Homo sapiens: one gene and its partners. The protein of the gene in region 4 purifies or fractionates together with the protein of the main gene of each other region. This does not show direct contact. Each region holds a gene or a part of one and is shown on either strand. Other genes may lie near its edges.

Region 1 (3,500 bases), on a different chromosome or scaffold from region 4:
ATGTGAAAAAAAATATAGAAGTGTTAAAATGCAAATTGTATCCTAAAACATTACATGGATTGTTTGATTGTTTGGGTGGTAGAAATAGATAATAGGAAAATTGTGCCTCTGTTTCATAAGTGGGCTTTAATAAATGACAGTGCTCTAGATTCAAAATACTGCTTGACAGGCAAATGAAAGTTAATGAATAGTATAAAATCAGACATAATGGTTGAATTTTTGACGATAGGGAATACTACTGAATATTGTGTTATGGTGCTAGTCTGTTGGCATTACTAAACTTTATAATATTTGTCTCTTTTATTTAACTCAGGTGAAAAGGATTCAATGATTTTTGATTGTACTGAATGCTATGATCCAGTTACTAAACAGTGGACAACTGTAGCTTCGATGAATCATCCCCGCTGCGGCTTAGGAGTGTGTGTGTGTTATGGGGCTATCTATGCTTTGGGTAATTATGTTGTTCAGTTTAAAGATAGCTAATATTGTTTATGTATTTTTAATTTTCATTTTTGTGGATACATAATAGGTATATATATTTATGGGGCACATGAGATACAGGCACATAATGCGTAATAATCACATCTTGTAAAATGGGATATCCATCTCCTCAAGTATTTATCCTTTATGTTACAAACAATCCAGTTATACTCTTCTAGTTATTTTTAAATGTACAATTAAATTATTGACTATAGTCACCCTGTTGCACTATCAAATACTAGGTCTTATTCATTCTTTTTTTTTTTTTTTTGTATTCATTAACCATGCCCACCTCCTCCCTCCCCACCCCCACTACACTACCCTTCCCAGCCTCTGGTAACCATCCTTCTACTCTCTATCTCCATGAGTTCAATTGTTTTGATTTTTAGATCCCACAAAGAAGTGAGAATATGCAATGTTTATAAAGATAGCTAATATTATTTAAATTATTGGGTTCTGATGACTTTGGAGATGTTCTTTCCCTCTTTTCAGCTCTTTACATTCTTTTTTTAAAAACCAACTGGCTTTAATCTGTATACTCTGGAGGCTGGGCAAGGTCTTAGGGGAAGGTGTAGGTGGGGGTCAGCTGGTCAGGGATTGGAGGGGGTGCTCCTGGGCTGTCCATCCTAAGGAGGCACTCAGGCGGGGGATGGTACAGGAGGACCTGAGCACCTGCAGGGCAGAGCCTTGTTGGGCAGATGCATCAGTTCTTGGGCAGATGGTAGATGCCTGCCTGGCCAGTTGGCTGGCTGACCAAGCTGCTAGTCACACACATTCTTCTGCAGGTATCTCTGGAGCTACTGTATGCTGTAGATGCACTTGTCAGCTCTTTAAATTCTTATTCTCAAAATTGTATTACTGGAGATAAAATATAGATGAGACATCCAGTGAAGTACTTTAGCTGAGTAGTTAAATCTCATTATTTTAATTAAGCATATAACATTTTTACCACCCTGCATAGTGGCCTAATTATGTCTAATATAAGAAAGCACATACCAAAAAATTAAATATATCACAAGGAAGTTCTGTACTATATTATTTTTATTCTTGTATATGTAGTGAATGATTATGAGCAAGGTATTCTACTTTGATTATCTGTGTAACAAATGTTACAATCAAGGTTGTTCCTAGGGAAAGTTATAAGTTGATGTAGCTCTCAGCCTCCCCTATTTTCTCCTTCTCACTCCTTCTTCAGTTCACTGTAACTCAGTGTCTTCCCCTCATCCAAACCTATTGTGGAAAAAATATCAGTTACCTTAAGGTGAATTTAATCTATTATATTTTATTACCTCCATAAGTATCTGCATTTTTCAGTTAATTGTGGGAAATAATATTTTCAGTTTTAAGAATTGGAGAGTGTTGGCTGGACATGGTGGCTTACGCCTGTAATCCCAGCACTTTGGGAGGCTGAGGCGGGCGGATCATGAAGTCAGGAGATCGAGACCAACTTGGCTAACATGGTGAAACCCTGTCTCTACTAAAAATACAAACAAAATTAGCTGGGCGTGGTGGTGGGCGCCTGTAGTCTCAGCTACTCCGGAGGCTGAGGCAGGAGAATGGCATGAACCCAGGAGGTGGAGCTTGCACTGAGCCTGAGCCGAGATTGCACCACTGCACTCCAGCCTGGGTGACACAGTGAGACTCCATCTCAAAAAAAAAAAGAATTGGAGAGTGTTAAGAAAATGTTATTGTGGGGATAAGGGGCCTTTTTGAAATTCCTGAAATTACACCAAATACACGGTATACTCTGATTAGGTTTGGAGCTGGCCTTGATTAGGATAAACATTCTAAATAGCCAGAAGTAATTTCAAAAGGTAGTTTTGCAAAATACCATCTTTTCCATGCAATATATTGAAGTTTTGGGGCTTTTGTTGTTTTGTTTTGTTTTAGTCTTTAGTGAAAAATAGGGAGTTAAAAGACTTGAATTCCTTTTTTTTTTTTTTTTTTTTTTTCTCAAAAGAGCATCAGTTATGCAAAGGACCTGAGTTCTACTCATGGTCAAATTCTAACTTTTTCATGGGATCGTGGAACAGATAACCTCTTTGGCTCATGTGATATCTATAATATGAAGTATTTGGTTTAGATGTTTTCTAAGGTCTTTGTCATAAATAAGAATCTTTTATCCCGGAAACAAACATTTTTCTATTTCATTACAGGTGGATGGGTTGGAGCTGAGATAGGGAACACCATTGAACGATTTGATCCTGATGAAAATAAATGGGAAGTAGTTGGTAACATGGCTGTGTCACGCTACTACTTTGGGTGCTGTGAAATGCAAGGTAATCACTTTATAAAATATTTTTCCTCAAAATGTAGTTCTGAAAAACTGTTTGAGTTTGAGGCCTTATTTTCACAAAAGTATATTTTAAGTCTGTTAGTATTGAATGACTGATACTAGCAGCATAGAAGTTCTGCTTTTTACCTCCTATCATTGACTTTTATTTCTGTATTGCTAAAATAATTGATTTGATTTTTTCAGAAATAAACAAGGCTAGAATTAAAAATTGTAAGTAAGCAGGAATATCTGACTAGCACAATAAACATTTGAAGTGTTATCTGTTATTGTCTTTTCTCTCCCATGAACATCTAAGTAAATATTTCTAAGTAGGGAGAGAGTATCAGAAACAGTTTTTGGGTGTGGTGGCTCATGCCTGTAATCCCAGCACTTTGGGAGGCTGAGGCAGGAGGATCACCTGAGGTTAGGAGTTCGAGACCATCCTGGCCAACGTGGTGAAACCTCATTTCTACTAAAAATACAAAAATTAGCTGGGCATGTTACTACACACCTGTAATCCCAACTACTAGGGAGGCTGAGGCAGGATAATTGCTTGAACCCAGGAGGCAGAGGTTGCAGTGAGCGAGATGGTGCCACTGCACTGCAGCCTGGGTAACAGTGAGACTCTATCTCAAAAAATAAATAAAAATAAATTATTTTCATGGTCTATAGGCTTCTTTAGCGTTTTTTTTCTACAAAGTACATTGTGATGCCGCTCACATAACATATAATCCTGTGACAGATT
Region 2 (3,500 bases), on a different chromosome or scaffold from region 4:
TGCCTCTGAACACACCCAACCCCGGAGGAGCCAGCAGAGGAAAAAGAGGACAAAGGTGGGGAAGGGAGCAGGTGGTGCCCACCAAGTAAGGAACCCTGAGGCTTAGGCGGAACCTGAGCTGGAGAAGGGACTCATCTAGGAACTGGGTATGAGATTAAAGTTTAGATTTGTCTGGCCTGGATTTTGTTAACACCTAAACAAGGGTTATTCTATTCTTTTTTTTTTTTTTTTTTGAGATGGAGTCTCACTGCCCCCCAGGCTGGAGTGCAGTGGCGCTATCTCAGCTCACTGCAACCTCTGCCTCCCAGGTTCAAGTGATTCTCACGCCTCAGCCTCCCGAGTAGCTGGGATTATAGGCGCGCACCACCATTCCCGGCTAATTTTGTATTTTTAGTAGAGATAGGGTTTCACCATGTTGGCCCCCTGGCTCACGCCCGTAATCCCAGCACTTTGGGAGGCTGAGGTGGGCAGATCAAGAGGTCAGGAGATCAAGACCATCCTAGCTAACATGGTGAAACCCTGTCTGTACTAAAAATACAAAAAATTGCTGGGCGTGGTGGCTCACGCCTGTAATCCCAGCACTTTGGGAGGCTGAGGCGGGTGGATCATGAGGTCATAAGATCGAGACCATCCTGGCTGACACGGTGAAACCCCGTCTCTACTAAAAAGACAAAAAATTAGCCAGGCATGGTGGCGGGTGCCTGTAGTCCCAGCTACTCGGGAGGCTGAGGCAGGAGAATGGCATGAACCCAGGAGGCGGAGCTTGCAGTGAGCCAAGATAGTGCCACCGCACTCCAGCCTAGGCGACAGAGACTCTGCCTCAAAAAAAAAAAAAAAAAAAAAATACAAAAAATTAGCTGGGCGTGGTGGTGGGCACCTGTAGTCCCAGCTACTCAGGAGGCTGAGGCAGGAGAATCGCTTGAACCCCAGATGCGGAGGTTGTAGTGAGCCAAGAGCGTGCCACTGCACTCCAGCCTGGGCGATAGAGCAAGCCTCTGTCTCAAAAACACACATAAAAAAACCTTCAAACGAATGTAAGAATTATTATTTTTTAAAGTACAGCTTTAAAAATGCCCCTTACAAATACATCAGTGTTATATTAAGGCAAACCTACTTCAGAAGCACAAAGTTAATTTCTTATAATTCCAAGAAATATGTGAATGTTAAAAAAACCCCAAACACCCGAAAAGGGATCAAACTCAAGATAGTTTGGAACATTTTATTGCAAAAAGAAGGGCAGAGAACAGTCTTCTTCTTCATACCTGTTCACCACAGACCTCCCTGAGAGCAGTAATTTTTAGCAGCTCTCCTGTGCAAACAAGTCTCATGAAGGAATCAGTGTATGGGCCACAAATACCTTCTCAGTGTGGTTTCACCTAGAATACAAGCACTCAGAAGCACAAATTTAACTGAAGTGAGAAACCAGGCCATTTTGTAGCTTCAGTTTTTCTACCAGTAATATATTAATTTCTTGAAATAGCCTAATAATTTAGTTCTACTATCAAAACAGAAGCCCAATCTGGGAGCACAATTATTATAGAAATCAAACTAATTTCAATCATATTAGTATAGGAATTCATATTAGTATAGGCTGAGGCAGGAGGATCACTTGAGCCTAGGAGTTTGAGACCAGCCTGAGCAAGACAGTGAGACTCCATCTCTAATTTTTTTCTTAAAATAAAGAAATTCAGAGAGAAGAAGGAAGAGGATATGTGTTTATCCAAGGACAAATTTTGTGTGCCTGTACATACAACACAACTATGAACCTTCCTTCACGCAGCTCACAACCTAGTAGTGAGAGGGAACTATGAAAACGTGAGCCCCCACGATGAGGAAAAAGGTGCATATCAGAGAAAAGAAAAATGCTGCGATGATCCAATGGCAGGAGCAGCGCGCATCCACTTTCTTTGTTTTTTTGAGATGGGGTTTCGCTCTGTCTCCCAGGCTGGAGTGCCGTGGCTTGATCTCAGCTCAATGCAGCCTCAACCTCCCAGGCTCAAGTGATCTTCCCATCTCAGCCTCCCAAGTAGCTGGGAATACAGGCGTGCACCACTACACTCATTTACTTTTTGTAGAAACAGGGTCTCACAATGTTGCCAAGGCTGGCATCCTGAAGGGCGGGTGGGGCTTCATCCTACAGAGATGAAAGGCAGAAGAAGCTTAGAGCCCAAAGCAAAGGGGTGGAGGACAAGGGCATCTTCAGAACAGAGTGGCTCGGCTGAGACATCCAGTAGGATGCCACCAGGCAGAGGTGTGGTGGAAAAACACAGGGCCACGGTGAATGCTCACATGTGAGGAGCAAACCACCACAGAACACAACAGAAACACGGTGTACTAAATCAGGCTTCAAATCGCAGCCCTGCAACTTGAGAGCTACCACAGGTAACCCGGAAAGGGAGCACCGACAGCAATGCCCACTGCCTGAGGCTGTGAGATGGACCAGAAACCTGTGCTTACTAACAACCTGCCTTATTCCAGAAGGAATTCAGGAAACACAGAGACACTCACGGTACAGCAAAATAAAGTAAATGTGAATCATATTGGTTGAGAAGAAAGTGAAGAGTCTAAGACTATGTCATAAAGTTTACTTCTACTCTAAACTCTCATTACTGGTGAGCCACCAACCTGACTTTAAATTTTCTAGCAGCTAAATTGAAGAGGAAAATGTCATCAGGTAAACGTTTATAAGATGCAAACAAAACAGAACGGCCACCACAGTTTCTGAGAACACGCGCAGCTCCAGGAGAAATGGGGTGGCCATTTCCTGGGGCTGCCCCGCAGCAGGTGTGTGAGCCCGAAAGCCAGCGTCTCTCAGGGTGAACAGTGACTACGGGCTTCATGGGGCCACATGCCCCCAGCACAAGCTGAGGAAATCTCCCAGGGCAATTCAGGCAACAGGGTCTCACAGTGTCGCCCAGGCTGGTCTCAAACTCCTGGGCTCAAGGGATCCCCCTGCCTCGGCCTCCCAAAGTGTTGGGAGGTCAGGCGTGAGCCACTGCACCTGGCCCTGCACTCACATTAGAGAAGAGGGCTTTGCATCCTGAAGGGCGGTGGGGCTTCATCCCACAGAGATGAAAGGCAGAGGAAGCTCAGAGCCCAAGGTAAAGGGGGGCGCCTAAGAAAAGTGACTCCATTGGGACCACGGTGAGAGGGTCCCGATACACAGCTTGGGTTAAGCCACTGATTTCAAAGTATCTCAGGAATGGTGGACTCAGCACCCATCAGGCAATTCTCTCAAGCAGTCTCCTGGTAGATATTTAGTAGCAGCTGAAATCAAGATTATGTTCTGATAGACACTTGCTGATGGTTAAAGAGCTATATACACTTTGAGGACCAGCTGAACTGGGGCAGGACTAACTCCCTCTGGTGAAAATACAGGAACCCAAACACACAAGTCAGAGCAGGAGGTGTCTCCCCCACCCCCAAACAATAATGCTGACCTTGGATTTGGGTTAAGTGCCTAGCCCAGCGTGTGAGTGTTGAGTAAGTGGAAACCATCA
Region 3 (3,500 bases), on a different chromosome or scaffold from region 4:
AAAATCGTCCAAAAGAGACCACACTCCTTGCAAATCCTTTCCCACCCCTCCCACAAACAAGGATCTGGGTCCTTTTTCATTTCAGCATCAGAGGGGCTGCAGCCCGCTAGAAAACAGCGTGGAAATCACAGCCACGCCTGCGCCCACCCACGCCACCTCCTCGGGGCACTGCCTGTGCCCCGTGCCACATTCCTGCCAGCCTGCCTCCCCGCCGTTCCCCCATTCCGTCCATTCCCCACTCCCCAAAGCACCACTGAAATCGGCCACCCCTGCCAAGCCCCAGCAAGGGTTCCAAGCTCCTGTGTTTGTGGGACGCCAGGGCTGCTCACCTCTCCAGCCCCCGACCAGGGCTGGCCACAGCCCACAGGCTGCACCGTTGCTCAGCCACTGGGAGCCTGCCTGGGGGTCTCCTCAGGAGCCCCCTCCCCCTCCCTGGGCTAATTTACATCCATCCTAGACATTCAGCCAGGACCACTTCCTCCAGGGAGGCCCAAAACCCCAAGTCTGGGTGGTGAGACCCCCATGGCTCAGTCCCCCCATCTGCCTGTCCCTCAAACTGTCCTGAGTGGGGCCTGAGCCAGGGTCTCACCCACCCCCAGCTCCCAGCCCAGGCGTTGCTGGGGGGAAAGGCGGGGGCAGTGCAGGCCCCCCTGCCACAGCTCCCCTCCCTTCACTGGTGCGTCTTAGTGTTTTGGGGCAACCCATCATCTACACAACTGATGGCTCCGTGTAAAAGATGGATGCCCTGAAGGAAATTCTCGGTTGCTGGTTTAGAGCTTTGAGATTTCTCTCCTGAAGGTTATTTAAAGTCCACAAAGAAACTTAATACTTTCAACCTTCAGTTCAATGTCGCAGCTACCTAGTGATTTCTTTTCTTTTCTTTTTTTTTTTTGAGGCAGAGTCTCGCTTTGTCTCCCAGGCTGGAGTGCAGTGGCGCGATCTCAGCTCACTGCAACCTCTGCTTCCCGGGTTCGAGTGATTCTCCTGCCTCAGCCTCCTGAGTAGCTGGGATTACAGGTGTGTGCCACCACGCCCGGCTAATTTTTGTATTTTTAGTAGAGATGGGGTTTCACCACGTTGGCCAGGCTGGTCTCAAACTCCTGACCTCAGGTGATCTGCCGCTTCAGCCTCCCAAAGTGCTGGGATTACAGGCGTGAGCCACCACGCCTGGCTAATTTTTCTATTTTTAGTAGAGACCGGGTTTCCCCACGTTGGCCAGGCTGGTCTCAAACTCCTGGCCTTAGGTGATCCACCTGCCTCAGCCTCCCAAAGTGCTGGGATTATGTGTCTGGCCTAGTGATTTCTTTAGATCTAGTTGATGAGGTCTCAATATCTTGCTCATTAATCATTAACTCTACATCAAATGCTTAGGAGATATCAGGATCAAGAGACAGGGAAGACAAGCCGCTGGCTGGGAGAAAATATTTGCAAAACACATGACTTGTATCCAAAATATATGAAGAACACTTCCAACTCAACAGTAAGGAAACAAACAAGCAGATTTAAAAATAGGCCAAGGCCGGGCACTGTGGCTCACGCATGTAATCCTAGCACTTTGGGAGGCCAAGGCAGGTGGATCTCCTGAGTCCAGGAGTTTGAGAGCAGCCTGGGTAACATAGCGAGACCCCATCTCTACAAAAAATAGAAAAATTAGCTGGGCATGGTGGTATGTGCCTGTAGTCCCAACTACTCCAGAAGCTGAGGCATGAGGATCACTTGAGCCCCAGGAGATTGAGGCTGCAGTGAGCCAGGATCGTGCCACTGCACTCCAGCCTGGGCTACAGTGAGACCCTATCTCAAAAATAAAATAAAAATAAAAATAAATAAAATACAAATGAGCCAATGACCTTAATAGACACTTCACTGAAGAAGATACACAGATGGCAAATAAGCATCTGAAGAGATGCTCCACTTCATACCTCATCAGGGAAATGCGAATTGAAACAGCAACAAGACACCACAATACACCTAACAGAATTCCAAAATCCAGAACACTGACACCACCAAATACTGGTGAGGATGCAGAGCAGCCAGGACTCTCGTTCGCCACCGGTGAATAAATGTGGCACAGCCACTTTGGAAGAGAGTTTGGCAGTTTCTTCCAAAACGAGACACACTCTTACCATACGATCCAGCAATTGAGCTCAAATGAATTAAAACCTTATCTCCACACAAAAACCTACACGTAGATGTACACAGCAGCTTTATTCATAACTGCCAAAACTTGGAAGCAACCAAGATGTCCTTCAGCAGGTGAATGGATCAACAAACTGGCACATCCAGACAACGGAATATTATTCAGTCAAAAAAGGAATGAGCTACCAAGCCCTGAGAAGACATGGAAGGGCCTTCAATGTATATCATTGAGTGGAAGAAGCCAATCTGAAAACGCTACTGTACACTTTATGATCACAACTAGATGATAGTCTGGAAAAGGCAAAAACACAGATACAGTAAAAAAAACAAAAACAAAAACCAAAAAAACAAAACAAAAAAATGATCCGTGGTTGCCAGGGATTTGGGGAAACGGAGGGATGCATAGGCAGCAGAAAGAGGATTCTGGGGTCAGTGACGCTGCTCCAGAGGTGACTGTAATGGTGGGTCCATGTCACTCTACATCCATCCAGAGCCACAGAATGTCCAACGGCAAGAGCAACCCCTAATGTAAACTATGAGCTTGCGGAGATAATGATGTCTCAGCGTTGGCTCACGACTCTACCACACAGCCGGGGGGCACTGATGGAGGTGAGAAGGGATAGGTGGGGACACTTTGTATTCTTTGCTAGATTTCGCTGTAAACCTAAAACTGCTTTAAAAATATACGTCAATATATATATGTGAATATATATACACACACATGAATATATATATATATATATATATATATGGTTTTTTTTTCTATTTGATATGGAGTCTCACTCTGTTGACCAGCCTGCAGCGCAGTGAGGCAATCTCAGCTCACTGCAACCTCCACCTCCCAGGTTCAAGCGATTCTCCTGCCTCAGCTTCCCAAGTAGCTGGGATTACAGGCACACGCCACCATGCCCGGCTAATTTTTGCGTTTTTACTGGAGATGGGGTTTCACCATGTTGACCAGGCTGGTCTCGAATTCCCGACCTCAGGTGATCCACCCACCTCGGCCTCCCAGAGTGCTGGGATTACAGGCGTGAGCCACCTCACCTGGCCCACACATACATATTTTTTAAGGTAATCAGGGGATAGAAACTTCCTGAATGTGTTGCTCAGAAAAGAGGGACAGAACCTCCAGACTGGCTGCTCTCGCCCCGCTGCCTTCAGCTGTCTCTGAGAAACCTGACCCTGGCCACTGGGCAGTGGCGCCTGAGGTCCAGTGCCTGGTGCAGCACAGAACAGGCCTCTTGTGGCAAATGTGTGGAGCACTCCACCCGACCTCTTCCACACTGGCCAGGGCCGGCCATCCGCCTCTGAGGACTTCCAGCAGCAGCTGGGCTGTCCCCGACCTCCATCCTGGCCCACTGGAC
Region 4 (3,500 bases):
GTTTCACCATATTGGTCAGGCTGGTCTCGAACTCCTGACCTCAGGTGATCCACCTGCCTCAGCCTCCCAAAGTGCTGGGGTTATAGGAGTGTATTTTTTTAGTAGAGATGGAGTTTCACCATATTGGTCAGGCTGGTCTCGAACTCCTGACCTCAGGTGATCCACCCGCCTCAGCCTCCCAAATTGCTGGGGTAATAGGAGTGTATTTTTTTAGTAGAGATGGAGTTTCACCATATTGGTCAGGCTGGTCTCGAACTCCTGACCTCAGGTGATCCACCCGCCTCAGCCTCCCAAAGTGCTGGGGTTATAGGAGCGAGCCACTGCGCCTGGCCTAATTTTTTTTTTTTTTTTTTTGAGATGGAGTCTTGCTCTTGTTGCCCAGGCTGGAGTGCAATGACGTGATCTCAGGTCATCACAACCTCCGCCTCCTGGGTTCAAGCAGTTCTCCTGCCTCAGCCTCCCGAGTAGCTGGGATTACAGGCGTTGAGCCACCATGCCCAGCTAATTTTGTATTTTTAGTAGAGATGGACGGGGTTTCTCCATGTTGGTCAGACTGGTCTCGAACTCCTGACCTCAGGTGATTTGCCCACTTTGGCCTCCCAAAGTGCTGGGATTACAGGCGTGAGCCACGGCGTCGGGCCAGCTGTGCCTTTTTATTCTAGTGTTTTCTTCTCTATGACATATTTCCACTTCTTTGTTTTGCCATTTCACACATTATCTATTGACTTTGTAAGAAGGTTTCACTGTCTTACATTCTCTTCCCTGCCCACACAATACACACATTTCCTTGCCTCTTTCTAAGTGAGTAGTGTCTGTAGTCTTTGGTTAAAACAATGTGATATGGCTGTAAATAGTAACACATATAAATAGTGTTCCTAGTTAAGCCACAGAGTAACTATGATTATTTTTTCCCTTTTTGCTCAAATGGTTTTGAAGTTCATAATTGCCTTTTTTTTTTTTTTTTTTGAGATGAGTTTTGCTCTTGTTGCCCAGGCTGGAGTACAATGGCACAATCTCAGCTCACTGCAACCTCCACCTCGCGGATTCAAGCGATCTCCTGCTTCAGCCTCCCAAGTAGCTGGGACTGCAGGCACGCGCCACCATGCCCAGCTAACTGTATTTATTTATCTATTTTTGTTGTTGAGATGGAGTCTCGCTCTTGTTGCCCAGGCTAGAGTGCAATGGTGTGATCTTGGCTCACTGCAACCTCCGCCTCCCGGATTCAAGCGATTCTCCTGCCTCAGCCTCCCTAGTAGCTGGGATTACAGGCGCCCACCACCACGCCTGGCTAATTTTTTGTATTTTTAGTAGAGATGGGGTTTCACCATGTTGGTCAGGCTGGTCTCAAACTCCTGCCCTCAGGCGATCCACCTGCCTCAACCTCCCAATATGCTGGGATTACAGGCGTGAGCCACCATGCCTGGCCTACACTTTTCTTTCTTATTTTTCGGTTCTTTTTCTTTCTGTGTCCTACTCTCCGGAGACCTCTTCAACTTATCTTCTAAAATATCTATTGAATTTTTAATTTCTGTAACTATATTTTTAAGTTCCAAGAGCTCTTGTTTTTTGAGTGTTCTTTTATAGGGTTTTTTTTTTTTTGAGAGGGAGTTTCATTCTTGTTGCCCAGGCTGGAGTGCAATGGCGTGATCTCGGCCCACTGCAACCTCTGCCTCCTGGGTTCACGCGATTCTCCTGCCTCAGCCTCCCACATAGCTGGGATTACAGATGCCCACCGCCACCATGCCCAGCTAATTTCTTCTTGTATTTTGAGTAGAGATGGGATTTCACCATGTTGGCCAAGCTGGTCTCGAACTCCTGACCTCAGGTGATCCACCTGCCTTGGCCTCCCAAAGTGCTGGGATTACAGGCATGAGCCACCACGCCCGGCTCAGCTTATTTTTAACAAATGTGTATGGTTGTGCAACCATCACCACAATCCAGTTTTAGAACATTTCCACTGCCCCAGACAAGCACTGATTGCACGATGCCCATTTGCAGTCATTCCTCCTCCCACACCCCGACCACCACTGATCTGCTTTCCATGTGGCTTTAATTTACATTTCCCTGATGACTAATAAAGTTGAGTCCCTTTTCATAAGGCTATTAGCCATCTGGATATCCTGCTTTGTGAGGTTTCTGTTCAAACATTTTGACAATTGTCATATTGAGTCGTTTGTCTTTTTCTTATTGATTTGTAGGAGTTCTTTATATATTCTGGATATGAGCACTTTGCCAGATAAATACATTGTGAATATATTTTCCCCCTCTGTGCTTTGCCTTTTAATTGTCTGAATGGTTTCTTTTCATAAACAGCAGCTCTTTATTTTAATAGAACCAAATTTATATTTTTATCTTTCTTTTTTTATTTTTAGAGATGGGGTCTCGCTCTGTCACCCAGACTAGAGTGCAGTGGTGCGATCATAGCTCACTGCAACCTTGAACTCCTGGGCTCAAGCAATCTTCCTGCCTTAGCTTCCTGAGTGGCTGGGGCTACAGGCATGTGCCACAAGCCTGGCTAATTCTTTAAAAATTGTTTAGAGATGGAGTTTTGCTACGTTGCCCAGATTGGGTCTCAAGTTATCCTCCCGCTTCGGCTTCCTGAGAAGTTGGGATTTTTTTTTTTTTTTTAGACGGAGTCTCACTCTGTCACACTCAGGCTGGAGTGCAGTGGTACGATCTCGGCTTACTGCAACCTCCGCCTCCCGGGTTCAAGAGATTCCCCTGCCTCAGCCTCCTGAGTAGCTGGGATTATAGGCATCTGCCACCACACCCAACTAATTTTTGTATTTTTAGTAAAGACAGGATTTCACTATGTTGGTCAGGCTGGTCTCACACTCCTGACCTCAAATGATCCGCCCGCCTCGGCCTCCCAAAGTGCTAGGATTACACGCGTGAGCCACTGCGCCCAGTTACATTCCTTTAAAAAAAGAATATTCTGGTCTTGATTTATGAGTGCAGTGCTTTAGCTCTGTAAGGATTTTTTTTTTTTTTTTTGAGATGGAGTCTTCTTCTGTCACCCAGGCTGGAGTGCAATGGCAAGATCTCGGCTCACTGCAACCTCTGCCCCCCTGGTTCAAGCCATTCTCCTGCCTCAGCCTTCCGAGCAGCTGGGATTACAGGCATGCACCACCACGCCTGGCCTAATTATTTTTGTATTTTTAGTAGAGACGGGGTTTCACCACATTGGCCAGGCTGGTCTCAAACTCCTGACCTCGTGATCTGCCCGCTTCAGCCTCCCAAAGTGCTGGGATTACAGGCGTGAGCCACCGGGCCCAGCCTCTATAAGGATTTTTTCGCCGGGCGCGGTGGCTCACGCCTGTAATCCCAGCACTTTGGGAGGCCAAGGAGGGCGGACCATGAGGTCAGGAGATCGAGACCATCCTGGCTAACACGGTGAAACCCTGTCTCTACTAAAAATACAAAAAATTAGCCGGGCGTGGTGGTGGGCGCCTGTAGTCCCAGCTACTTGGGAGGCTGAGGCAAGAGAATGGCGTGAACCT
Region 5 (2,784 bases), on a different chromosome or scaffold from region 4:
AGATAGAGAAAAGGGGCTGAGCCTTGGAATATATGGTTATAAGCAGATCTTTCTTTGGTCAGAGACCAGGGTTTGAGCCAAGGCTGTAAATGTGAACAATAGCTGTGCAAAGCCTTTTAACCTGACTTCTTCATTTTGTAAATTATTATGCATTAAGTAGCAGCCCAATAATCTGATTTCTAGTTTTATTTTCAAAGTAAGTAGCTTCTTTTGGGAAAAACCTAAGTTAAACTAGTAGTTTTGCCATAATAACTGCTGATTTATGTATTTGCTAAAGGTACTTTTGTATCTGCTGTGTATTATAGCAATAAAATAATCATTTTGTTAGAAAAAAATCACCTGGTGTTCTTTTGTAATACACTGATCTGTTACAAACATCATCTTTCTGAATTCTGCATTGTTACATAACAAGCCCTACGCTTTAAACCTTTCTGTGTTCCCTGTTGGTAAGGGAAATGCCAGCTCCCTCTTAGAGTCGAGAGGGAAAGAGAAAAGAGAAAAACTGTTAAAAATGTTTTTATTTTTTAGTAAGCAAAATTTTACGAAAAGTCAGATTCACCCGTGGAGCCAGAACCTTCTTTCTCACGGGAAGACTGTGGTACCAGTGCGTGTTGGTCGGGTGGTTCATCATTAGTAAGCTCCCGTGGGCCAGCGGCAGCCTGACCACCGCCACCCTCCTGGAGGGGCTTTTCCCACGGGAATCCTTATGCCGGAAGACAAAGTCTCTGCAGGCACCGAAGGAGACAGAGGCAATGGGGCTCCCAGGGGCCAGTTCTCTTTCATCATCTCGGTGCTCCCCGATGTGGTCACAGCCATCTTTATACCTGCAATGAGAAAACAAACACAGTGCATAAAAACAACCCTCTCCTGAAACTCACCAGCACCGCCAGCCCTCGTTTTCCTCACAGTGTGAAACAGCACTCTGCATGGCTGTACCTGCCGTTGTTTCTGCGAGGGCTTGAGGTCCACAGTGGGCTCTAAGATAAGCCAACGCTGAAGAGGTCTGTTGACGTATTTGTTCATGTGACTTATTTATTATTATTTTTGAGAGGGTCTCGCTCTGTCACCCAGGCTGAAGTGCAGTGGCACAATCATAGCTCACTGCAGCCTCGGCCTCCTGGGCTCAAGTGATTCTCCCACTTCAGCCTCCCAAGTAGCTGGGACTATAGGTATGCACCACCCCACCTAGCTAATTTCTTTTCTTTTGCAGAAACAGTTTCACCATGTTACCCAGGCTGGTCTCAAACTCGGGCTCAAGCAATTCACTCTCCTTGGCCTCCCAAAGTGTTGGGATTACAGGCATGAGTCACCACGTCCGGCCAGTTCATGTGCTTTAAAACTGAAGACACCCAAAGCCAAAATCACGTCTTACTGTAGTTCCCCTGGCCAGTCTATGTAAACCTTTATCACATGATTTTGCCCTGCACTCAAAGGCCATACTCTGCATAGCCCGGCCCCTGCCCACTGCTGAGCTCATGCCATCCCCTTCTTTCCCTCATTCACTGCTTTCCGGCCATCCTGCAGCATTTTTGCTTCACAGACACTCCAGAGTCCCTCTGCTCTCCCTCCAGATGTCTGTGGCTGGCACTCTCCATTTAGTTATCAGCTCAAACGCACTGCCTCAGCCCTCCTCTAACCACCCCATCTGAAGTGACCTTCCCTTAAACCCACCCAGGGTTCTCCACCAGGGTGATTCTGCCCCAGGGGACAGGTATTGGGGGGTGGGGGACACTACTTGCAATCTAGTGGATGGAGGCCAGGGATCTGCTCAACATCCTGCAAGGCACAGGTCAGCCCCAACAACAACGAATGACTGGGCCCAAAATGTCTGCAGTGCTGCCGTTGAGAAACCTTGCCCTAATCGCAAACCTCTCAGCCATTCTCAGTCAAATCGGCCTGTTTAATTTTTTGCAAGATGGTTATCACTGTCTGAAATCGTCTAGGGTCAGGCATAGTCGTTCACGCCTGTAATCCCAGCACTTTGGGAGGCTGAGGTGGGAGGATCGCTTGAGCCTAGCAGTTTGAGACCAAGCCTGGGCAACATAGAAAAACCCTGTCTCAAAAAAAAAAAAGAAAGAAAAAGAGAAGAAGAAATTATCTCATTCAGCTGTTTGTTCAGGAGTTAATCACCTCTCACTTCCTACTCCGGGATGAGCTCCAGGATCCAGGAAGACCGAGTGCTGGCGCTATTCCACTCTTAGAGCCCCAGTGTACTAAGAAATGATTTGTACCAATGAACCAAATAGGGTGGAACCCTAAACACTTCCTTTTGGAGGAGACAGAAGACTTGTAACATTGAGTCCACTAAACAGGGTGTCACCTGTTGATGAGCACAAAGTTGAAGGTCTGTCCAGTCACCCCAGAGACGTGATCCCGGATGCGCTCTAGAACTGGGATCCAGGGCTTTGGAGACAGCGTGAGGCCTGAAAATGTGTAGGTCAGCCCAGCGTCGCCATACGTTGCCTGCTTCCTGGGCACACTGTGCCACTTCCCGAATACCTGGACTCTGGCCAGTGCTCCTGTGCAGAGGAAACATGGCAGTTCCTTTCTACCTGACCCCCATCTAGAAATCCAGATGCCCCCCCCAACCCGCACTGCCATCACCAGAAATCCAGTGCCCCACATACATGCTCCCTGGGTATTCAAGATTGAAAGGGAAGTAAGGAATAACATTTCCCCGTCATTCCATGCAATTTAAACCCCTCTTCAATCATCATTTTGGCTTGCCCCAAATTTTCTTTTTGTTTTGTTTTCTTTGAGACAGGGTCTCCCTGTGTCACCCAG
Region 6 (3,500 bases), on a different chromosome or scaffold from region 4:
TATGTAAAACAAAAATTTGAATATAATTTGAATATATCAGTCTAAATGTAGCTAGTGGAATATTTATCATTGTTTTTCTTTATGGGTTGGTCCCATTAACAAAAGGAACATGTTCTTTCATTGTGGAATAAATGAACATTTGGATCAAGTGTGGGTCTGGCGCTCTCCACTGTGAATTTACTTCGGGGAACAGCTTGGCTACACAGGTGCTCTAGGCAAATTTGTTGATTCCTTTAGATCAAGCATAGCTTCTCACTTTAGCCATTTCTTTTTACCTCTTCTGATCTATGAGTTCTTAGCTTTAATTGGTGGATTTAAAGAGATGCAAAAAAAAGGCACCCCCAAATCTATTCCAGCAGGAGGAATGGTCAAAGCCTCTTTTGGGTTCTTGGCCTAGACAGCTGGAAAAGACCAGGATGGAAAGTGAACATTTCTGCCATTGCTGATCCTACTCTGAATCTGTTGATTCCTGCAGTTACAGCAGGTGCTGGACACTGTTTTTCATGCTGTGCAACAATAAAAAGGAATGGTTAGGCTGGAGAAGGGGCCCAAGGGAAACATGTATGGGAAAAAGGAGAGCCAACTGAGAAATAAAGACATTAGGGATCCAGGTTAGAAGACTAGGACCAGGCTGCTCTGTTACCTCCTTAGTGGCTGCTAGAGTCTAGTTGTCATCAACCCACATCCACTTTTAGGTGGGGAGGTAAGGAAAGAAGCAGGGATCAGATGAGGGCTTTGTATACCCTTAGGGGTCATATGAGGATGTCTGCTCTGCCTCCAGGTGTCGCATGCAACTGGGCTGGCTGAAACACTTGCAGTGAGAACTCACTGTGTGTTCAAGTTCAACAATTTTGGGAAGGCAATAGCAGGGGAGAAGACATGGGGAGGAAAGAGGATGGTAAACAACAAGGCAAAAAAGATGGGGTTTAAAAATTAGTAGACAGCTGGAAAGTTAACAAGCATGATTGGGGCTGGGTGTGGTGGCTGACACCTATAATCCCTACACATTGGGAGACTGAGGAGGGAGGATTGCTTGAGGCCAGGAGCTTGACACCAGCCAGGGCAACATAGTGAGGCCCAGCCTCTACAAAAAACAAACAAACAAAAAAATTAGCTGGGCATGGTGGCATGTGCCTGCAGTCTTAGCTACTCCAGGAGGCTGAGTCAGGAAAATCGCTTGAGCCCAGGGGATTGAGACTATAGTGAGCTATGATTTTGCCATATTGTACTCCAGCCTGGGTGACAGAGTGAGACCTTGTCTCTATTAATTAAGAACAACAACAAAAAAAGCATGATTGGGTGGTAATAGTGGTAACAAAATGCAAAGAAAATCCCACATGACTTGCAACTACCAAAATGAAGTGATAAGTTGGTCCAGACAACTAGAAAATGTGTTGCCTAGACTACATGCAAATTAAGTCTCAGACACCCCCTTGCAAACAATTCTTTAGCTCTAGTGAGAAAATCAACTTACTCTTAAAGAAAAAAGTGTTTACATGATCATTACTAAGGGCAATAAAATTTATATAGATATAAGGTAACTGCTGTTGAAAAGTGTGATTTCAGACCTGCTGACACAGAAATTCACCTAAGCGGATGAACTCCCATTAGCATTTAGTCCAGAGCTTCTCAAACTTTTCCACCAAAGCATCCCCAACAGCAAAAGAATAAATATATAATCTGAGGACTTGGGGTGCAGCCTGAAGTTGCTTGCCACATGCACAAGATTTCCCATTTTAGCTTGAAAAATTCATATGTTATATTTGTGTTTAATACAAACATGTTTTAAATGACTCTGAAATTTCTCCTGAATTGCTGAGCAAAAGTGCCAAAGTTGTATTATGTTTCTCTGTGGGCGTTGGGAACCGTGACCCATTGCTGTGTACCTGTAGAGCTTCCTGTATTGCAGTAGAAGCAGCACAGTGTCCTCCTAACTTATTTGATTATCTTGCTACTTTTCAGCTCTAAAGAAAGCACTGGGGTTTTGGGGTCCTGGCACAGATAGTTAGCCTCACTGGTTACCACCATGCAGGACTCCTATTGCCTCTCTGAATCCTGGGACATGCTGGTGGACTGATGTGAATACAGTGGTAATGAGAAAGGAGCTGAAGAGTTTTTATAAATATACATGCAATATATATTTTTTGCTATCAAGTTAGAGAACCCTAACTTAACAGAATGGATATGTTTCTATACAATAACTTTCTTTAAGCAGGAATAGCTGTATTCTATCTAGTAAAAGAAAAGAAATGTAGTTTTAGAGAATAATTCCAGTGATGATGGTAATAACCTTTGGTTAGAATGGGCAAATCCCATTTTATGCAGGTGTGGGTATAGCACCCTGCCCTCTAGAGCTTTTTATAGCATATTTTAGCCCTAGTATTTTTAGGAACTCATAACCCCTCAGGGACCAAAACATTCCATTCAACTCTCTTACATTCCCCTTAGACTCTTCTCCTCATGCCAAACTTGTTGTTTCCAGAAGAATTACTCTACTGTATCCAGGAACTCATCAGAATTCATCAATGGGAGCTAACTCATAGAAACAAACATATTTAACATTGTATCTCAAATAGAATAAAATGATTTTACTATTTTATCCATTCTATAAAAATTGTACACATTTATTTCTAATAAGAAATACCTATAACAGATATTCAACTAGGAGTGTATTTCTTTTTTTTTCCTTTTTTTTTTTTTTGTTTTGAGACGGAGTCTCGCTCTGTCGCCCAGGCTGGAGTGCAGTGGTGCGATCTCGGCTCACTGCAAGCTCTGCCTCCTGGGCTCAAGTGATTCTCCTGCCTCAGCCTCCCGAGTTGCTGAGATTACAGGCGCCCGCCACCACGCCCGGCTAATTTTTGTATTTTTAGTAGAGACGGGGTTTCGCCATGTTAGGCAGGCTGGTCTTGAACTCCTGACCTCAGGTGATCCACCCGCCTCGGCCTCCCAAAATGCTGGGATTACAGGCATGAGCCACTGTGCCCGGCCGGAAGGTATTTCTTTGCAGAGATCTTGATGCGTTTGGCTTACCTGAACCAGTGTTTGTCCTTCAGCTCTTGAATTCCTCACCACATGGTTGTTAGTTGATCCTATGAATGAATGCTGCTGTCTGTTGTCTGCCTTGCTCACGTTCTGGCTGTTGTGGAAACTCCCTGCTTCCTGGTATCCACTGTCGGAATAAGAATTCATTTGTGTTGAACTTCTTGAGTTACCCAATGATCCTGTAAGAATGAAACCAAGAAATATCTTTATTATACACACTTCTGACACTCGCTTTCAAGAATAAAATCTTAAAAGCAAATCCAGTACTTAAAAGATAACACAACAGACCCTCACTTTCATGGAGAGATGTCTGTTCTGGTGAATAGAGGGTTCCTTGTTCTGGCTCTGTCCTGATGAGATAGTTGTTGGGCTGGACAGCGTCAGAAACTCTAGGTTTGCTTACACCAGTATTTGGCACGTCTGTAACAAGAAAAGTTTAATCAGCTAAATATAATAAC
Region 7 (3,500 bases), on a different chromosome or scaffold from region 4:
CTTTCTTTCAAGCTAAATGACTCTGGCCCTTTAATCTTTCCTCGTAGGACCTGTTCACCATGCCTTTTATGTTCTTTCCCCTCTTTCTCTCTCTCTCTCTCTCTCTCTCTCTCTCTCTCTTTCTAAGAGAAGGGGTCTCCACTAGGAGCAATGGCTCACACCTGTAATCCCAGCACTTTGGGAGGCTTAAGAGGGCAGATTGCTTAAGCCAAGGAGTTTGAGACCAGCCTGGGCAACATAGAAAGACCCTGTTTTCAAAAATTAGCTGGGCATGGTAGTGCATGCCTGTGGTCCCAGCTATTCAGGAGACTGAGGTGGTGAAGCTTGTGAGCCAAGATTGCACTACTGCACTCCAGCTGGGCAACAAAGCAAGACTCTGTATCAAAAAAAAAAAAAAAAAAAAAAAAAAAAAAAAGCAGGGGTGGTTCTTGCTCTGTCACTCAGGCTGGAGTGTAGTGGCAAGATCACAGCTCACTGCAGCCTCAGACTACTGGGCTCAAGAGATCTTTCTGCCTCAGCCCCACAAGTAGCTGGGACCATAGGCACAAACCACAACACTCAACGAATTTTTGCATTTTCTTGTAGAGGCAGGGTCTCACTATATTTCCCAAGCTGGTTTCAAACTCCTGGACTCACGTGATCCTCCCACCTCAGCCTCCCAAAGTGCTGAGATTACAGGCATGAGCCATCATATGCCTGGCCAATCTTTCTCTTTTTTTTCCTCTGTCTTCTTCCAATAACCACAAGTTAGTATGGTATTCCAAGAAAGGGCTAATCAGAGTGGAGAGGAAGACCTGCTTTCCAGCTGGGTTGTAAAAATCCTTTGGGTCCATTCTGGATCCCATGATGCTGCTGCTATGCTGGTGACAGTGAAGGCAGTGATAACACCACAATCAGGGACATCTCTAATGGTTATATAGGTTGTATGCTGGATGACGGTGTCCAGTTGGTAAGGGATAGGGGCAAGCTGGAACCGAGCCCTGCACCCTGCCCAGAAGGAGGGGCTGCCATTTTCATATTCACACAGACTCTGCCTAGATTAGGGCAACCCTCACAATCATGAATAGAAACCATAGGTGGTGCCAGAGATCTCACCATGGTAGTGGAGGCAGAGTAATGATTGTCACTACCAACATGACACTGCCCGTCATTAGGCTGGACAATGCCTGCCAGCCTTCCGTCCAATGCTATATGAGTCTTGGCATCAGTGGTAAACACCAGCAAGTGGGATGCATCATTCCTCCAGCCAATCTTTTCCTGTTAAAAGAAAACAAAAAACAAAGGCAGAGGAGACAAAACAAATTCAGCCATGTCACTGGTAGAGAACAGAGACCCAAGGTGCTCCCTGGCTAAAGGGCTGGACAGCTTATTTTTCTTCAAAACAAGGGTCTCAGTCCCAGTCCTTGGAACCGAAGCTGAAGCTTTCCAGTTCAGGAGTTTCATTCTCTTCAGAAAACAGTCTCATAGCTGATTAGTTCAAGCAGCTGAATGAGATCTTCTTAAACTCCAAACTTAACTCTTCTAATGACAGTCACATTGCTCATCTAGAAACTGACGTGCATCCACAGAGCTGATCTGGGCTAGAAGAAATCTCATCTGAACATCTGCCTACTTTGCTGAGGTTAAGTTAACTCAGCCTTAACTCTGAAGTAACTCTGAAGATGGGAAGATGCTCTCCCCTGGGAACATCTGAGACCACTGAGGTTCAAAGAAATGTCAGCTCAGGCCAGGGAGTGGATCTAAGCCAAGGCTGAATATCAGGAGCAACTTACTACTCATAACTGCAGGAAGCCCTGCTTAGTTCTCATCTCATTTTACACCAGAAATCCCCAGAGTTCAGTCACTTCCTTTCCCATTTTGATCTATGCCAGCCACACCTGGCACTCCAAGTCCTCCAAACTCACATCACAGACTGTAGCCTGCATGATGGCATCAAAGCCACCCTCTGGGGCATCTCGGTTCCGTGACACACTCTGCTTCTTCACTTCCTCATTGAAGCGGGTCACCTGGTCAGTTAGCGTCAGCACGTGTTTGTAGCCAAACATGGGCAAGCAGGTGGTCTTCATACTGGGGAGGGATGGGAGATAATTTAAGCAGACACCTTCATGGAAAAGGCAGCATGGGAATTGGGAGGAAAGAGAGGGGACAAATATAGATAGTGGTATGCCAAGGCCAGTTCCATACAACCACAGTTACCCAGACAGTTCAGACTCCAAAATCCTCAAATTATCTGAAGCTCCCCATCAACATTACCCCCATCCAGCTAACCTAGAAGATAAGAGATTGAGCTGGAAACAAGACTCCCTGAGCTTAGATCCCAGGTGCCCTCTGTACTAGTCATGGGACCTTTGGCAAGCCTCTCAATCCAACCTATGAAAGAGGGGCCAGGATAGCACATATCCCATAAGAGTTGTGAGACTTAAGTAAGTTCATACACACAAAGCACTTAGACCAGAGCGAGGCTCGAGTTGCTATTACTATCACCTTATACTTAACACTTTCCTAAAGTAACAATAAAGCAAAAGTCCATCAGTAAGTTAAGGTCCCTGAACCATCAATAAATTGATAGATCATGCAAGACAGGAGCATTTCTGCCCCCAGTCAAAATAGTGTGTTTAATTAATAGCTGATGTCTTGCCTGGGAACCTTACAACCCAGATAGAAGGTTGAATGCCACATCATATAACTTCAAAACTTTTTCTTTTTTTTTTAGAGACAGTTGTGCTCCATTGTCCAGGTTGGAGTGCAGTGGCACAATCATGGCTCACTGCAGCCTCAACCTCCCAGGCTCAATCAATCCTCCCACCTCAGCCTCCCTGTAGTCCTGGGGACTGCAGGCATGCGCCATCACACATAGCTAATTTTTTTGTAATTTTTGTAGAGATGGGGGTCTCACTATGTTGCCTAGGCTGAACTCAAACTCCTAGGCTCAAGTGATCCTCCCATCTTGGCCTCCCAAAGTGCTGGGATTACAGAAGTGAGTCACCCCACCTGGCCGTAACTTTGAAAACTAAAAAGTAAATTCACACCTTTTCAGGCTCAGCAACCAGCATTGTAAGTTATTCTAATACATGGATTTGCACAGTCTCCACCGATTAAATAAATAAGCCATTCAGTTTTAAGCCAAAGTGTCAAACAGAGGCACAAGTTATCCATTTACAGACTATAAAAGTGTCCAACAAATGTCATTTCCACTCTTTTATATTCCTTAGCACTTCATTTCTTCTGTTTTCACCCTGCAGGATGCACGGCCTTGATGAAGACAATAATGCCAACAATGGAATCGATCCTTCTGTAATCGTAATTTCTCGGTTTCCTTATCCATAAATTTCTTTCTACTTTTGACGTCATTTCCCTCCCATTCTCTCTTGCCTTCTATTTATTTGTTACCAAGACTGAGAAGCTGATGAATTTTCTTTCTAGGTTCTCCAAACAGCCTTAGGCTCCATTGACACAACACTCCAGATCCACAAGCTAGCCCATTTGCCAAACAGGGAGAC

What was found.
Region 1: the proteins of FERMT3 (region 4) and IPP purify together in Homo sapiens (affinity purification with mass spectrometry; 2 studies listed by BioGRID and IntAct, with this or other methods). This does not show direct contact.
Region 2: the proteins of FERMT3 (region 4) and PDCD6 purify together in Homo sapiens (affinity purification with mass spectrometry; one large-scale study listed by BioGRID and IntAct). This does not show direct contact.
Region 3: the proteins of FERMT3 (region 4) and PARVB fractionate together in Homo sapiens (co-fractionation; one large-scale study listed by BioGRID). This does not show direct contact.
Region 5: the proteins of FERMT3 (region 4) and ALKBH2 purify together in Homo sapiens (affinity purification with mass spectrometry; one large-scale study listed by BioGRID and IntAct). This does not show direct contact.
Region 6: the proteins of FERMT3 (region 4) and PKP4 purify together in Homo sapiens (affinity purification with mass spectrometry; one large-scale study listed by BioGRID and IntAct). This does not show direct contact.
Region 7: the proteins of FERMT3 (region 4) and ITGB3 purify together in Homo sapiens (affinity purification with western blotting, with the first as the bait; one study listed by BioGRID). This does not show direct contact.

What each region holds. Positions count from the first base shown.
Region 1 is NC_000001.11:45,716,154-45,719,653, reverse strand, and holds part of IPP (actin-binding protein IPP), read left to right. Parts: intron 1-313; coding exon 314-451; intron 452-2,636; coding exon 2,637-2,759; intron 2,760-3,500. UniProt on the Homo sapiens protein: May play a role in organizing the actin cytoskeleton.
Region 2 is NC_000005.10:274,646-278,145, reverse strand, and holds part of PDCD6 (programmed cell death protein 6), read right to left. Parts: intron 2,135-3,500; exon of another isoform or gene 1,206-2,134; intron 1-1,205. UniProt on the Homo sapiens protein: Calcium sensor that plays a key role in processes such as endoplasmic reticulum (ER)-Golgi vesicular transport, endosomal biogenesis or membrane repair.
Region 3 is NC_000022.11:44,027,302-44,030,801, reverse strand, and holds part of PARVB (beta-parvin), read right to left. Parts: intron 1-3,500. UniProt on the Homo sapiens protein: Adapter protein that plays a role in integrin signaling via ILK and in activation of the GTPases CDC42 and RAC1 by guanine exchange factors, such as ARHGEF6. Is involved in the reorganization of the actin cytoskeleton and formation of lamellipodia.
Region 4 is NC_000011.10:64,213,221-64,216,720, forward strand, and holds part of FERMT3 (fermitin family homolog 3 short isoform), read left to right. Parts: intron 1-3,500. UniProt on the Homo sapiens protein: Plays a central role in cell adhesion in hematopoietic cells. Acts by activating the integrin beta-1-3 (ITGB1, ITGB2 and ITGB3). Required for integrin-mediated platelet adhesion and leukocyte adhesion to endothelial cells.
Region 5 is NC_000012.12:109,087,689-109,090,472, forward strand, and holds the end of ALKBH2 (DNA oxidative demethylase ALKBH2), read right to left. Parts: intron 2,520-2,784; coding exon 2,321-2,519; intron 825-2,320; coding exon 518-824; 3' UTR 501-517; downstream 1-500. UniProt on the Homo sapiens protein: Dioxygenase that repairs alkylated nucleic acid bases by direct reversal oxidative dealkylation. Can process both double-stranded (ds) and single-stranded (ss) DNA substrates, with a strong preference for dsDNA.
Region 6 is NC_000002.12:158,620,952-158,624,451, reverse strand, and holds part of PKP4 (plakophilin-4), read right to left. Parts: intron 3,463-3,500; coding exon 3,331-3,462; intron 3,222-3,330; coding exon 3,031-3,221; intron 1-3,030. UniProt on the Homo sapiens protein: Plays a role as a regulator of Rho activity during cytokinesis. May play a role in junctional plaques.
Region 7 is NC_000017.11:47,284,827-47,288,326, reverse strand, and holds part of ITGB3 (integrin beta-3 precursor), read right to left. Parts: intron 2,068-3,500; coding exon 1,905-2,067; intron 1,258-1,904; coding exon 1,096-1,257; intron 1-1,095. UniProt on the Homo sapiens protein: Integrin alpha-V/beta-3 (ITGAV:ITGB3) is a receptor for cytotactin, fibronectin, laminin, matrix metalloproteinase-2, osteopontin, osteomodulin, prothrombin, thrombospondin, vitronectin and von Willebrand factor.